Linked DNA regions of Homo sapiens: all the other regions are linked to region 2. The links come from fine-mapping of genetic effects on gene expression. A gene starts in region 2. Each other region holds a variant in brackets. All regions are shown on one strand. Distances are between the middles of the regions.

Evidence for each region. PIP is the estimated chance that this variant, and not a neighbour inherited with it, causes the effect.
Region 1: its variant is the best candidate, but not a certain one, in a credible set for the expression of KLF7 in whole blood (INTERVAL, PIP 0.59).
Region 3: its variant is the best candidate, but not a certain one, in a credible set for the expression of KLF7 in fibroblasts (GTEx, PIP 0.52).

What each region holds. Positions count from the first base shown.
Region 1 is chr2:207,049,323-207,053,556 of GRCh38, forward strand. No RefSeq gene overlaps it. Among named protein-coding and RNA genes, the nearest start is that of MIR2355, 59 kb to the right of the region's middle. The variant C/CTTT (reference allele first, on the strand shown) is at 2,502.
Region 2 is chr2:207,163,918-207,168,151 of GRCh38, forward strand. It overlaps KLF7 (KLF transcription factor 7), which reads right to left and starts at 2,031. Exons shown (of 4, transcript NM_003709.4): 1 at 1,550-2,031. The coding sequence starts at 1,651. It overlaps MIR7845 (microRNA 7845), which reads left to right and starts at 2,483; the gene lies at 2,483-2,581. RefSeq lists enhancers at 1-332, 333-1,041, 1,643-1,742, 1,750-2,458, 2,459-3,166 and 1 more and silencers at 2,233-2,872, 3,493-3,542.
Region 3 is chr2:207,131,782-207,136,015 of GRCh38, forward strand. All of the region lies in intron 1 of KLF7 (KLF transcription factor 7), which reads right to left. Among named protein-coding and RNA genes, the nearest start is that of MIR2355, 24 kb to the left of the region's middle. The variant C/T (reference allele first, on the strand shown) is at 2,295.

The DNA.
Region 1 (4,234 bases), 110 kb before region 2:
AGCCCTTGAGGAGCCACATGCACGCAACATCTTTTCACACCCCAAACCAGCAAATGATGCAATGATTTAACACTGCAATCATAAGAGCTATTAAAAATGAAGTTTTTATGAAAAAGGGGTATTTTCATGTAACTACAATGATGGTGTGACACACAAAAAGCAAAACAAATGCAAACGTAAGTCCTGCAAAAGATAAGTACCTGCTAGTTTAATTATTATTAAAAAGAAAATGAGAAATAGCAGACTGAGAAAATGGAAGTCATGTAAGGATGGTCCGAAAGACAAAGGAAAGGGGAATAAATGATGTCTTAACATTGAGATGTTCACCTCAGCAGCAATTATCACTGGCAAATTCTGCCCTGACAAGGGGAGACACGGGTTGATATAAAAGGGCTTTTTCATTTTTACTTCCTAGAGTTTGTGAATAACTGGCTTCCCAGGTGACAATTACTCTGCTTCCTCCAAACACAATTCCCTACCCCCTTTGACCTCTTGCAGCACAAACACTTCAGAAATAAAAACCCCACTGGGCCCTCTGGTGCTCTTCTTTCTCTGAATTGCAAGTCTGGCCTTGATGGTCTGGATTTTGGAGGATGGAAATAGGAAGAGAAAGGCTGCATTTAAGAGAAAATCTCCTTTTCACAATTGGGTGGCTCTCCAATATCACCTGGAATTAAAATATATTTCCCTGCCACCCTGCTCTGTGAGACTGTCAGTCAAAGACCCAGACAAAGGATCACACGTTTTCTAAATCCACTTCCACCTGCTGGAGTACGTGATTGTCAACATTTGAATGTTCCAGAGGAAAGAAGGAGCTACTGATCGTCAGGAAGGTGCTAGCACGCTTGACTTTAGGATATCCATGGAGGCAACGTAGGGTATCATCATCTTCTTTCACTTAAAAATCTCTCCCCAGGGGTGCCAGAAATCTCACTACGATTTGTCTGTAGCATTGGGGTGAAGCAATGGGCCATATTTCTACTTTGTAACATCCTAAGAAGATATGTTCTCAGAAAGATGGGGCTAAACATTTCTCTTTTCCTAAAGAACTCTTTTTCCCTTTTTCCTCTTTTGAGATTCCTATATCATGGGGGTAGTTGTCATAATCAGTGACAAATACTCTAGCATGAATTAGTTTGTTCAAATTACATTTCTACAAGCACACTTTTATAAAATAACAAACAAAAGTTAGTTTTTGAAGACGCTAGAAATCTATTGGGGGAACGCTGGGCATAACTGCAAAGGTTACGAAAATTATAGGACAGTGCATTCATGACAAATGAATTATATAAATATAAAATTCTGCAGCAGTTTAGAGTAGGGGGAATCATGGAAAGCCTCTAGGAGGAGGCAGGACTTGAACTAGGAAAGATAAAATATAAGTGGAAAAATGTAGTAATCATCCAACGTTTTGTTACAGTCACCATTGGAACACTTTTCTTTGAGGGGATGATATCATCTGCGCTAATACTTTTGAAAAGTTGATCTGGAAGGCACCAGACCTGTTCTGGCTCATGCTACCAGGCTATCTTCCCTGCGTTCTCACAGGTTCCCCAGCCCTCAGCCCTGCCATTTATTCTACAAAGAGCACTAGAGGGGTTTAAAACTCTAATTGGATCCTAATGTGACTCCTCATTGGTTTCAGGAGAAAATTTAAACCTACACACCTAGTTTACAAGCAAGGTCTAGCTTCAACTCTCCCCCTCCCCAACACTGAATTTCAGCCATGTTCTCTCTCCTCCTGGCTTTGAATGGTGATTCCTCCCTCCTTCCCACCACCAACCTAGTTAGCTTGCGTGCATCTTTCCATCTTCATGCTACAGATCATTTCTTCCAGAAACCTAATCTGAACCCCCAGACTAGATCCCTTTCCTTTTTTTTTTTCTTTTGAGATAGAGTCTCTCTCTGTTCCCAGGCTGGAGTGCAGTAGCGCAATCTTGGCTCACTGCAACCTCCACCTCCCAGGTTCAAGTGATTTCCTCCTGTCAGCCTCCCAAGTAGCTGGGATTACAGGCGTGTGCCACCATGCCTGGCTAATTTTTCTATTTTTAGTAGATACAGGGTTTCACCATGTTGGCCAGGCTGGTCTTGAACTCCTGACCTCAGGTGATCCAACCACCTCAGCCTCCCAAGATGCTGGGATTACAGACGTGAGCCACTGTGCCTGGCCCCTAGATCCCTTTCTACTATGTGTCAGCACTGTTCAACCCAGTGAATCTACTGCTGACAAGTGAGTCACAGTCTCTGCTCTTGGTGGAGTTCCCATTCTGGTGGGACAAGACACAGAATCATTAAATAAACATAAATATATATGATAATTTCAGATGATGTTAAGGACTGTAATAAAAATAAAACAGAATGGCAGGCCAGGGAACAATGAACAGTGAAGGGGATGTGTCCTGCTTACATGAAAAAATAGGGAGTTTGGGGCCTTCCCACATGTTCCTCTTGTACCCTGCACTTCCCCATTAGCGGTAATAACAACTTAATGTGATAACAGC[C/CTTT]TTTTTTTTTTTTTTTTGAGACAGAGTCTCTCTCTGTCACCCAGGCTGGAGGGCAGTGGCATCATCTCATAGGTTCAAGTGATTCTCCTGCCTCAGCCTCCTGAGTAGCTGGGACCATAGGTGCGTGCCTGCATGCCCAGCTAATTTTTTTGTAGCAGCCATTTTTTTAACTGATTTTCTGTGCAAGATTAAAAATGCAGGGTCAAGGTCTATCCATTTCTTTATTTGCCTCTAGTTGTTAACATGCTGCCCAGAATATAGTGCTTGATAAGTATTGGTGGAATGAATGAGAGATTAGAAGGGAGAAAGACTTGGAATTTAAAGGCCATTATAGTTGTCCAGTTAGAGCTCATGAGGGCCTGGGCTAAGATGGCGTGACATTCAGGATAGAAAACAGAGGCTGGATGTGATGAGTGGTATTGTAGAGGAAATAACAACAGGAGCTGGTGACTAACTGGAAAAGGGAAGGAGATCAGGAGGAGTAAAGGACACCACCTTTTAGTCTTTGGACACAGGTTACAGGGAGAATGAGAGACAGCTAACTACTCATTAAAACCCATCTTCTCTGGGACACACAGTCAGATATTACCCAGCCTCCTTGGCAATTACACCATGTGACCAAGTTCTAGCCAATGAAATGTGAACAAAATGATGTGCGCCACTCCCAGGCCTGGCCTGTGTAAATCTCCACACAGGATTCTCAGTGCCTTTTCTCCTCTTGCCATCTGGATGTCAATGCTTGGGACTTCCTCAGAAGCCATGCACTGAAGATGACAGAAGCTCCCCTCACCCTGATCCCTGAATGGCAGTGAGAGCAGAGCCCACCCTCCCCTCATCCCTGCCCCCTGGAATTACCTTGAGCTATTTCTAGATCAAGAGATGTCTATAGATCAAGAAATGAATGGAAATAGGAAATTTAGGAGAAAAAGATGGTTCGGGTTTGGGCAAACCCAAACCACCCTAAAACGAAATCGAGAACACTGATCAATTTAGTTTTAGGAAGTAGAATGTGAAGTTTCAAAAATATTCAGTTGAAGATGTCTCAAAGGAAGGTGGAAAAGCTAGTTCAGAGTTTAGAACCAGGCTGGGGACATGATGAATAGAGATGAGGTCATTTGTTTAAAATGGGAGGAAGTGAGGTTAACAAGAGGGAGCGGATAGAGGGAACACATGGGCATAATCTCTAAAAATCACTATATTCAAAGATCAGGAAGAGCAGATGCCACAAGGGACAGAGGAGTGGTCTGAGGAAACCAAAATGGTGGACACTGAAGAACCAGAAACTGGCGTCCCAAATCCTGGGGCAAGGCCCAGGAGGAAGGGGGCTTGGGTATGGTCAGGGAATATGACACTGCTGGGGCCGGAAGTGGCCTCAGGGCCAGCGGTGGCATCAGAGCACAGTGGAAATAGAAACCAAATTGTACACTGGTGGCTTGACCCGTATGTGGAAGCCATCATATTGCAGTAGATCATTAAAAGCTACGTCTTGATTACCTAGGGGAAGTCGCAGAGTAAAGAAAAGGCTGTTCTCACCTTGAGGCTGGAGGGTCTTGAGGGTCTTCATTCTACTGAATGAAGCTGTAAGATGGAGAAGGAATAAGGAATGTGAAAGTCTCTGGCAGAGAATTTGGGAAGTAATAGTATGAAAGGCCTGAGTTAGGGATACATCTCTGTCAACAGAGGGACCCTTTCGTAGAAGGTTCTCCTTCATTGAAGGAGAACATAACTGCTTT
Region 2 (4,234 bases):
AAGGAAAAGGATGCATTGAAGAAAGACTTTATTCTAAAAATATGTGAACTGTGTATGTGTTTACAGAGAGACAGAGTCAAGCATCTGCTAGCGTCCTTGGACAAGAATGCATGTGTGGACACAGAGACACCAGACGCCAATACCTGGAGGAAAACTCACAGCCTCTGACCAGAAGTGAACTAGCAACAATGGTACAGTTAAAGGATCCGCCTTGCCACTCGGCTCCTTATACCAAAAGCCAAACCTCTTTTGCTAAAGCAGAGACTGTTACATCTCAGCCTCAAGCTGGCAAATCCTGCTTTGGATCCCGGCAGAGGAAATTCAGCCGTTCATTAGCCTTAACAAGCTGCTGTCACTAAGCGAAGAAATTACACGAGCAGCCACACACCGAGCCTCTCACAGCCCTCCCCCCAAGGGCAAGCGGGTTTCTCCAGGACGGACTGTACAAGTTCACACTTCCTATGTGCAAATCCGGACTGTCTTCTTGGACTTTCCATGGTGCACACTGTACAATTTTTAAATACCCGTGTCCCCCCGCCCCCACCCACCATCTTTCCTGCAGAATGTCCCCTCAGCAGCTCCTAATCGCTGCTGAAAAAAACCACTGTTTCCGCAGCAGAGCCAGCACTTTCCACTGACCAGCACTTTCTTTATTCCACTTCACAAAGCCCAGTGAACTTGTCACCAGCCCCACTTCATCCTCCCTGGGACGGCTAGCCAACTTGGCATCGGTGCCCTTCAGCATCCTGGGAGTTTCTTAACTAGTCCTCTAAGACAAAGTCAAAGGCATGGAAGCACACATCAGCCTTTGTCCGAGGTTGTGCTGCCTAACTAGAGAAGGACCCTAAACAAAAAAGAGAAACAAGGACACGCATAGAGGGTGTTCTCTTTCTGGAGGGATCACACTGGGAAAACCTACAATTCATTGTCAGCCTCAGCTACATCTTCCCGTCCTCCTTGAGTATCTTTTGTCAGTGGGCTCTTCTCTCTTTTGCCTACCTTCTAATCTCAAAATCAAGCTCCTATTCTTTATTGACACTCGCTAATTACTGAAAAACACTCCGCTTTGCTCCTGCCCACCCTCCCCCGCCCCCCATCCGATGGTCATAAGCACCAGTTGAAACAGATGAACCTGATTTCAGGTATCAAGTGGGTAGAGCTCATGCATGCGAGAACGTGGTCCCTGTCAGCAATCGCTCCTAACACCCCAAACCACCTTCCCACCCGGCTCCTCCGAACCCCAGAAGTTCGGCAGGTCTCTGATAGGGGACAGCAAACCCGACAACGTGTGCGCAGGGATGTGTGTTGGCGACTGAAACGCAGGCAGCTCGCACCGGCTGCTCAGCTCGGCACTCTACGAGGTTAGGGGTGGGTGGAGAGGTAAGCGCAGATGACTGTTTCAGAAAACATTTTCAACAACAGACAGCCAAAAAGGAAGAAAAAAAAGTCAAACAAACAAACAAAAATTTCAACCCAGAGCCCACACCAACGCAGCCCCTGCGTCTCCGCCGCCACCACACGATTTACACAAGTAATTTAAATCATTCACCTGCTGCCAGGTCTCCTCCAGGGATGGTAAAGCTGAGAAGTAGCCGGTGTCGTGGACAAGTTGTAGCTCCTGGAATATACTATAACTAGCCAACACGTCCATGCTGCTGCTGCCGGGCAAAACGGGAGGCGAAACCCTCCCCCGAACACAGTTGGGGCTGTTTGTTTGTCAGTCTGTCTGGCTCACCCCCCAAGAAGGCAGACATCCAGTGGCCCTTTTGTTTTGTTTTGTTTCAGTCAACTAAAAAGGAAAAAAAAAAATCAATGCAGGAGAGGGAGAGAGGAGGTGAGAGAGGAGCGAGTGAGTGGGGTGGATGGAGAGAGGCATCCAGCGTGTACAGTGCAGACGACTGCCAGGAAAAGGGGACTTCTCCACGGGAGTAACAATTCCCTTCCAGGGCTCTAATCACTCCAGCTCGTGGATCAGGAAGGGGGATGCAAACTCACTGACACGAAGCTGCCATCTATTTCTGCAGCGCTGTTCGCTCCTAATGCAATCTTTGCTCTTTATTTTGGGAGGTTGCATTTTTTTCTCTCGCGATCGCTTCTCTTCCCCCCCCTTCCCTTCCCTCCCCACCCCCCACCCCATCCTTGCTAGTTTGTAGTCTTCCCCCTCCCTTTTCTCCTCCTCCTGCTCTTCCCCCTCCCCAAACTCCCTCCCTCCGTTCGGTTCTCCGCGCAGCCGTGGGATCTCGAGGAGGGCGTCCATTAGGCCGCGTGTGACCATGTAAGGTAAACAGGGGGCTCATGAAGTCACTGAGGACCAATGGGGAGCCCGGAGCAGAGCCTGGGGCGGGGCTTGGCCCTGGCGGCGGGCGCGGATTGGCACGCTGCGGATCTCCCTGCTGCCTTACAAGGCGGTGCGAGGCGAGCTATTTTTAGAGGGCTATATAAGGGGGCTGAGGCGGCCGCCCGGCGGCCGGGCAGCGCGAGCGCAAGGGACAGGGAGGGTCGTGGCGACACTCGCGCCAGCTCCCGGGACGGCTGGGCTCGGGCTGGTCGCCGACCTCCGACCCTCCACTAGATGCCTGGCAGAGCCCGGCGCGTCCGGAGCCCGCGCCCCTCAGAGGGAAGGGGTCGCGCGTCGCCGCGGCGGCCCTGAGGCTGACGGTCGGGAGGTGAAAGGCCGGAGTGCGGGGTCAGGACGCCTCCTGGAGGGGGCGCGGCGCAGGGGGCCGCGGGGAAGCCGCCGAGGGCGCGGAGCGGGAAGGAAGGACAGTGGCCACCCCGCCTCCGCCTGGGCACGGGGCAGGGACCCGCGCGAGGCGGTGCCGGGGAGGTCCTCACGTACTCAAAAACAAGCAGAAAAGGCATCCAGGGCCCCTTCCCGAACTCCCCACGGGCTGCCAGGGTGCAGAGAAGAAGCGCCTGAGGAGGAAGTGCCACACAATGGGAGAGAACAAAGGGGAGCGGAGCGAGACCGCGGCCTGCGCCCGCCCCCCGCTTGCGCACAGTCCCCGCCCCGCCCCGCGGGCGCCGCCGCCGCCGCCCTCCCTCCCGCGCCTCCTTCTGACCCCGAGCGAGAGACCTGGTCGGGAGTCCGGCGGCTAGAGTTGATTGCAAGGGGCCTGTTGCTCGACTGTGCGTTAAAGAGGCTAGAGGGAGCCTAGGTAGACGTGGGGCGCAAGCTGGAGCCGGCAGCTTGCGAGGGGGCCTTTACGTGATGAGGCTCACCATGGGGTCTCCAGCGAGGTGTCTGCAGAGCTTCGATGGTGAGAGGAGGAACTCGATTTCTCGTTTTCTGGAGTTGGGATGTAGACATAGAGAGATCTGTTACATCTGAGATGAAAACCCTGCACAATTCACGTTAGGGTTGGCCAATTGTTTGCTTGACCTTAAATGGTTAGTGTGGTTTAAGCTTCCCCAAAATGCGCTGTGAGCTGAGCTTCCACTTTTGGAATGATTGCAGAATTCGGTGCTTAAGAGATGAGAAACTTCGTTCTACCAGTAATGGAAGAAACGCTTCACCTTAATCACCCTCCTTGTCTTTCCCCTCCCTTTGACTATGTAGGACTCGATAACACAACATTTGAAAGATTCTACTCTATGAAATAAGCACAGATTGAAATTCAGTATTTGCCAAGGAATATTAAACATGAATTACTGGGATTGAGGAAAGCCTGATTTATTTACTTGTTAGTGTCTGGAATTCTGTTGGCCAGATTCATAGCATTCATTGTATGAGTATAATTGGAACATTTACTCTAATGTAGATGCAGATGCATCTGCAATTAGATGTGCAAGGACGCTGCCAGCTAACTAGCTGCACGACTTTGAGCGAATTACTGGGTCAGAACTTGTATCTACCCATCTCAGAAACAGAAATAGTGGGATCCGCGTTGTCTAGTTGTTATGAAGAGTCAAAATATCTTTGGTAACTCACCTAGCATAGTATCTGACACTATTAGGTGAATACTAAATATTAGCTATCATTGTCTCCCCACTTGAGCTATGTAAACTAATAGGACCTTTAGGAGAATATACTATTAATAGAATCTTGGAGATAGAGGAAAGGTAGAAACCCCTTGCTAGTTTGTTACAAGGTCTCCCCTTCTCCATGCTCTCCCCTGACCCCCATGCTATTTCAACTGGGGGGATGGGCAGGAACCATTGAGAAACACTAGGGCAAAAAACATGTTCATGAATAATAGGGGAAGGAAAGGAACTTGGGTATAGAAAACTAGAG
Region 3 (4,234 bases), 32 kb before region 2:
CCAGGGAGATCTGGTACATTTTTGACAGGAGTTGGAGGAGGAGGAAAAAGATGTACTATGCTTAATAAACTCAGGAAGTCCATGAGACAATCTCAGATGCCAAGCATCTGAACCTTGTTGCCTGCCTTCCTGGGTTTCAACATTATAAATAGGCTTGAGGAAGAAGACGGTAACACTGAATCTACCTCGTGGCAGAAAGGATGCATGAACCAGTGCAAGCATCCACCTTGGGAGACCTAGAGAGTGATTCCTAACAAGATATTAAGCATATGTTCACTTTTTCTTGCCTTTCATGACCAGGAAATATTAGGAGAGAAAGAATTTCATCTAGAAAATGTGGATAATCAAGTAGACAGTATGAGTGAAAATCTTACTGCATTTTTTTTAAGCTATTAGGTTAAAAGAAAACCCACAACAATAGCACACCCCAGAGGTACAATAGCATTACACATTACTGTCAGGATTGCTGAACTCCATGAAATAACCAGGGGACTACAACAAATGTTAAGACTGCATTGCTTTCCACTGTTTCTCACATCTACTGGTTGCTAGAGCTGAAACCAAGTTATATATTTCCCTCTGGTAATTTGTAAATTTTGAGAGACAATGCTGTGAAAACTAATTTAAATCTAAACAAACATGAAAGCTGAAAAATTTCTATCAAAACCTCTTCCATGTTTCTCTTCTCCTATTTTCAACAAACAAAGAAAATATTTGTTTGCATATGTTTCCTTGGGGAGGTGGGTGGTGAGGATGTTGGAGGGGGAGAAAGGAGACAAGATTAAAGGCCTGGGGAGAGGGTGATGTCTTTGAAATTACTTTCCCCAGGCACATGATGCAAAGCAGCCTCAAATACCCCTTTCATCTTCCAAGGATTCCTTAGTTGCAGTGCATAAAAGAAATTCCCAAAACAACTCAAATCTAAATTAACCATCAAAGTGAGCTTTAAAGTCACATAACCTGGGCAGAGCTGGTAGCTATGGCCCAGGCCTCACACCGCTTGAAGGAAGGCACTGGGTTCCCCTACACTTCCAACAACTTGGAAATGCATTTTCCTCATTCATTATGTCTGTGATCCTCAAAATTCAATGCGACCATTAGGGACATGATGGCCCATGCACAGAGAGGCTTCTCTAACTTGGTTTAGAGTTGTTTTTCCAGATGTTACTCTGCAGGACATACTGACTGGGAGTCTGTTGGCCTGGCCTCTACCCACAGTTGCAGAGAGCCCTTAAGAAGAATTGCTCACTATTACTTGGCCACTGGACTATAACTAAATTACAGCTTCTGAATAGTCAAGAGACAACACTGCTTATGCAGAGCTGGGGCCTAGAAGATGCTCCTGTATGCTATCCCCTCATCTCCTATGCCCTCATCTCCCAACCAGGCCCCTATTCAGGTTGGCACTCACTGGTGGAAATCCCACTTGTTACATACAGATTGAAAGCAAGTTCCATTAGATGGCCCTGCTTTGGTCATTACACTTCCACGGACAAAATGAAATTCACATCTTAAAGAGTCAATAAAAATAATCCTACCCATACTACTGGGAAGTGCAAAGGGCTGGATCTGCACTGAAAGTGAGATTTAAGAATGAGAAAATGCAGGAGAGACACTCCAATGGGAAAAACCCATCACATCCCATGACAATGGCAACCAGTCGGTCCCTGCTCCAAAAGGAGAGGACTCTAAGCAGTTCGTCAAGAGCCCAAGGACGTGGGAGGAGGCCTCTTTTCAGAGGAGTGATGGCTTCCTAAGAACAACAATGGCCCTGTCGCTTTTTCAGCTTCCCATTAATTTTCCATAAAGAGCAGTTTTCTTGACGAGCGCTTGTGTCAGGCAGGGCCTGATGCTTCAGAAACCTGTAATTATTCTTGGCTCCCCACCCCCTACAGCCTCTGCACCTGTGTCAGTTCAAGGCACCAGCTGGCCATGTCTTGCCTCCTGCCTCTTAAGAGGGGGAGGGGGGGAGCCATCATTGAAAACCCAAACTCACATTACTCGCCTCTTCTTCCAAAATGCAACAACAAAACAAAAATTTTAAACTCACCAATCTCATTCCTCCCCCCAGTGGATCTTGCCAAAGGAAACAAATAAACATTAATTGGCTAGAGAGCCCTCATTCAAACCAAAATTACTGAAAAACACAGTAACAGGGAAAGGTCTGACAAGGCATTATTAATCCTGTTTTACAGCCCGCTCTTATGCACCCCCACCCGCTCCTGTTAACTTTGCACACACACTCACACACCCTCCTCAAACTCCCTGGGCCCCTTTACACTCACTGGCCAAGA[C/T]GGGAACATGCCGAACCAGTTACATCATCTCCCCTTCCTCTCCCAAATCACTTGCACAGGCTGACTCGGGCTACTGGGATTTTTTTTTTTTTTTTTTTTTAAAGCAAACTCATTTCATTGGCTCCTTCCTGGAACACAGTCATCTCCTTCTCAGTTGGGTTAATTAATATACCCTTCCCCTACCCCCATAAAAAACACACAGACACATACGATTACTTCTTGTACTCCAAAGCACAGCTGCACACGTGTACAACGTTCTCTCTCTCCCTCGCAGCTTGAATTTCCCAAGAATAACAGGTTCAAAGCCCATTGGGCCCTCGGTGGCAGATGCAATTTAGTGGCTGGTAATCATAGAGGATGCTTTCAAAACGGAGAGCTTTGAGGAACTTCCACTGCGGAATGTTAAAGACAAGGTGGGGGCGCTAGGAGGAATGTTTCTTCTACTCAGAATGCATAAAATGGCAGCCAAAACCATAATGAAGTCAAGCCCTAAGCTGTTTTTCCTGATATGGATTGTTGTACTGTTACTTGAGATACTTGGACTTGATTTCCCACAATGTTTAAGGTGGCTGTGTGGGTGTGCCAAGTGCCACTCACTCCAATTAAAGAAACAGACTGGCCATTCGCATACTGAGAGGCAGAAGAACAGGGACCCAAGCATTGGCCCTGGAGCCAGACTGCCTGGGTCCAATATCAGGTTACACTACTCACTAGCTCAATCCCCCTGGGAGAAGTTAACCCCTCTGTGCCTCAGTTTCCTCACCTGTAAAATGGGGTAATAGTAGTACCTACAACGCAGAAGCATTGTGAGAGTTCAATCAATTGACATGCCAAGTACTTGGAAGGGCTGGGCATGCACACTCTGTATGTTGTAGCTATTCAATAACTAGTGTTATTTTTCATTACACTTCCAGACAGACATAAAGAAACCTATCGAGGGCATGGAGATGGAAAATAAAAAATACCAAATAAGTTTCCAGGGGAAGTAAACCTGTTGGATATAAAAGTTTAAGTAAGCAGGGGACTCTGAGTTGGGAAGATCAACCCTGACTAGCTGGGTGACTTTAACTTCAATGGGCTCAGTTTTCTCATCTACCAGCTGAACTTCCAGGGGCCCACTAATCTGGAATTCTATGAGGAAGCAAAACAGTAATAGGAGAGTGAAGACTGAACAGTAAGAAAAGCTCATTCAGAACAAGTTCAGAGGAACTGATAGATAGCTCTGCTGTCATTGAGTGGTTAAAAAAAAAAAGGGTTTGGAGAACCTGGAAGAAAGTGGTCTTTGAACCCTCCTCTGACAGGGACCTCAAGGCCTTTATTAAAAGCCCTAAGACACTCAATAATCCATGTTTACAGGATGCTATGAAGGTTTAATTTCCTGCTTCACCATGGATACAAGCCTCACAACATCTAAAACGTAAACTTCACAAGAATGTGACTCTTCAAAGATACCAGACCTGTGCCTGACTTGCAGCCTGCCTCAAGCATTTGTCAAATGAATGAATGAATGAATGAGTAATTGAATCAACTCCCAAACAATCAAAGTGAAAGTCAACAGTGATCACAATCCTGGGTAGGAAGAGATTCAAGAGTATCATGAAAGCCAGAAATTCTTCCTTCTTCACCAAAGGAACATCAGAAGCAGTGTGCATGTGTTTATTACCAACATTTCTGGTAGAACACGTCAGTATTTTCAGATTTAACTATAGGTGTTATTTACTTGTCTCTAACGTTTTTCATTTGGAAAAAAAAAAAATTAAATGCTTACTGTCTGGGACAGATCCGGATTTCTAAACAGAGAGGCCAATTTAGCTTCACGGGGTAGCCCTGAGAGTATGCACCTGTGTTGGAAGTAAAAGCTGTCTCCTTGCCCTGGAGAATGCCCTCTCCCTCTGCCACTTCCTCTTTTCTCCTCTGGCCTCCAGAAACCACCAGGAAGA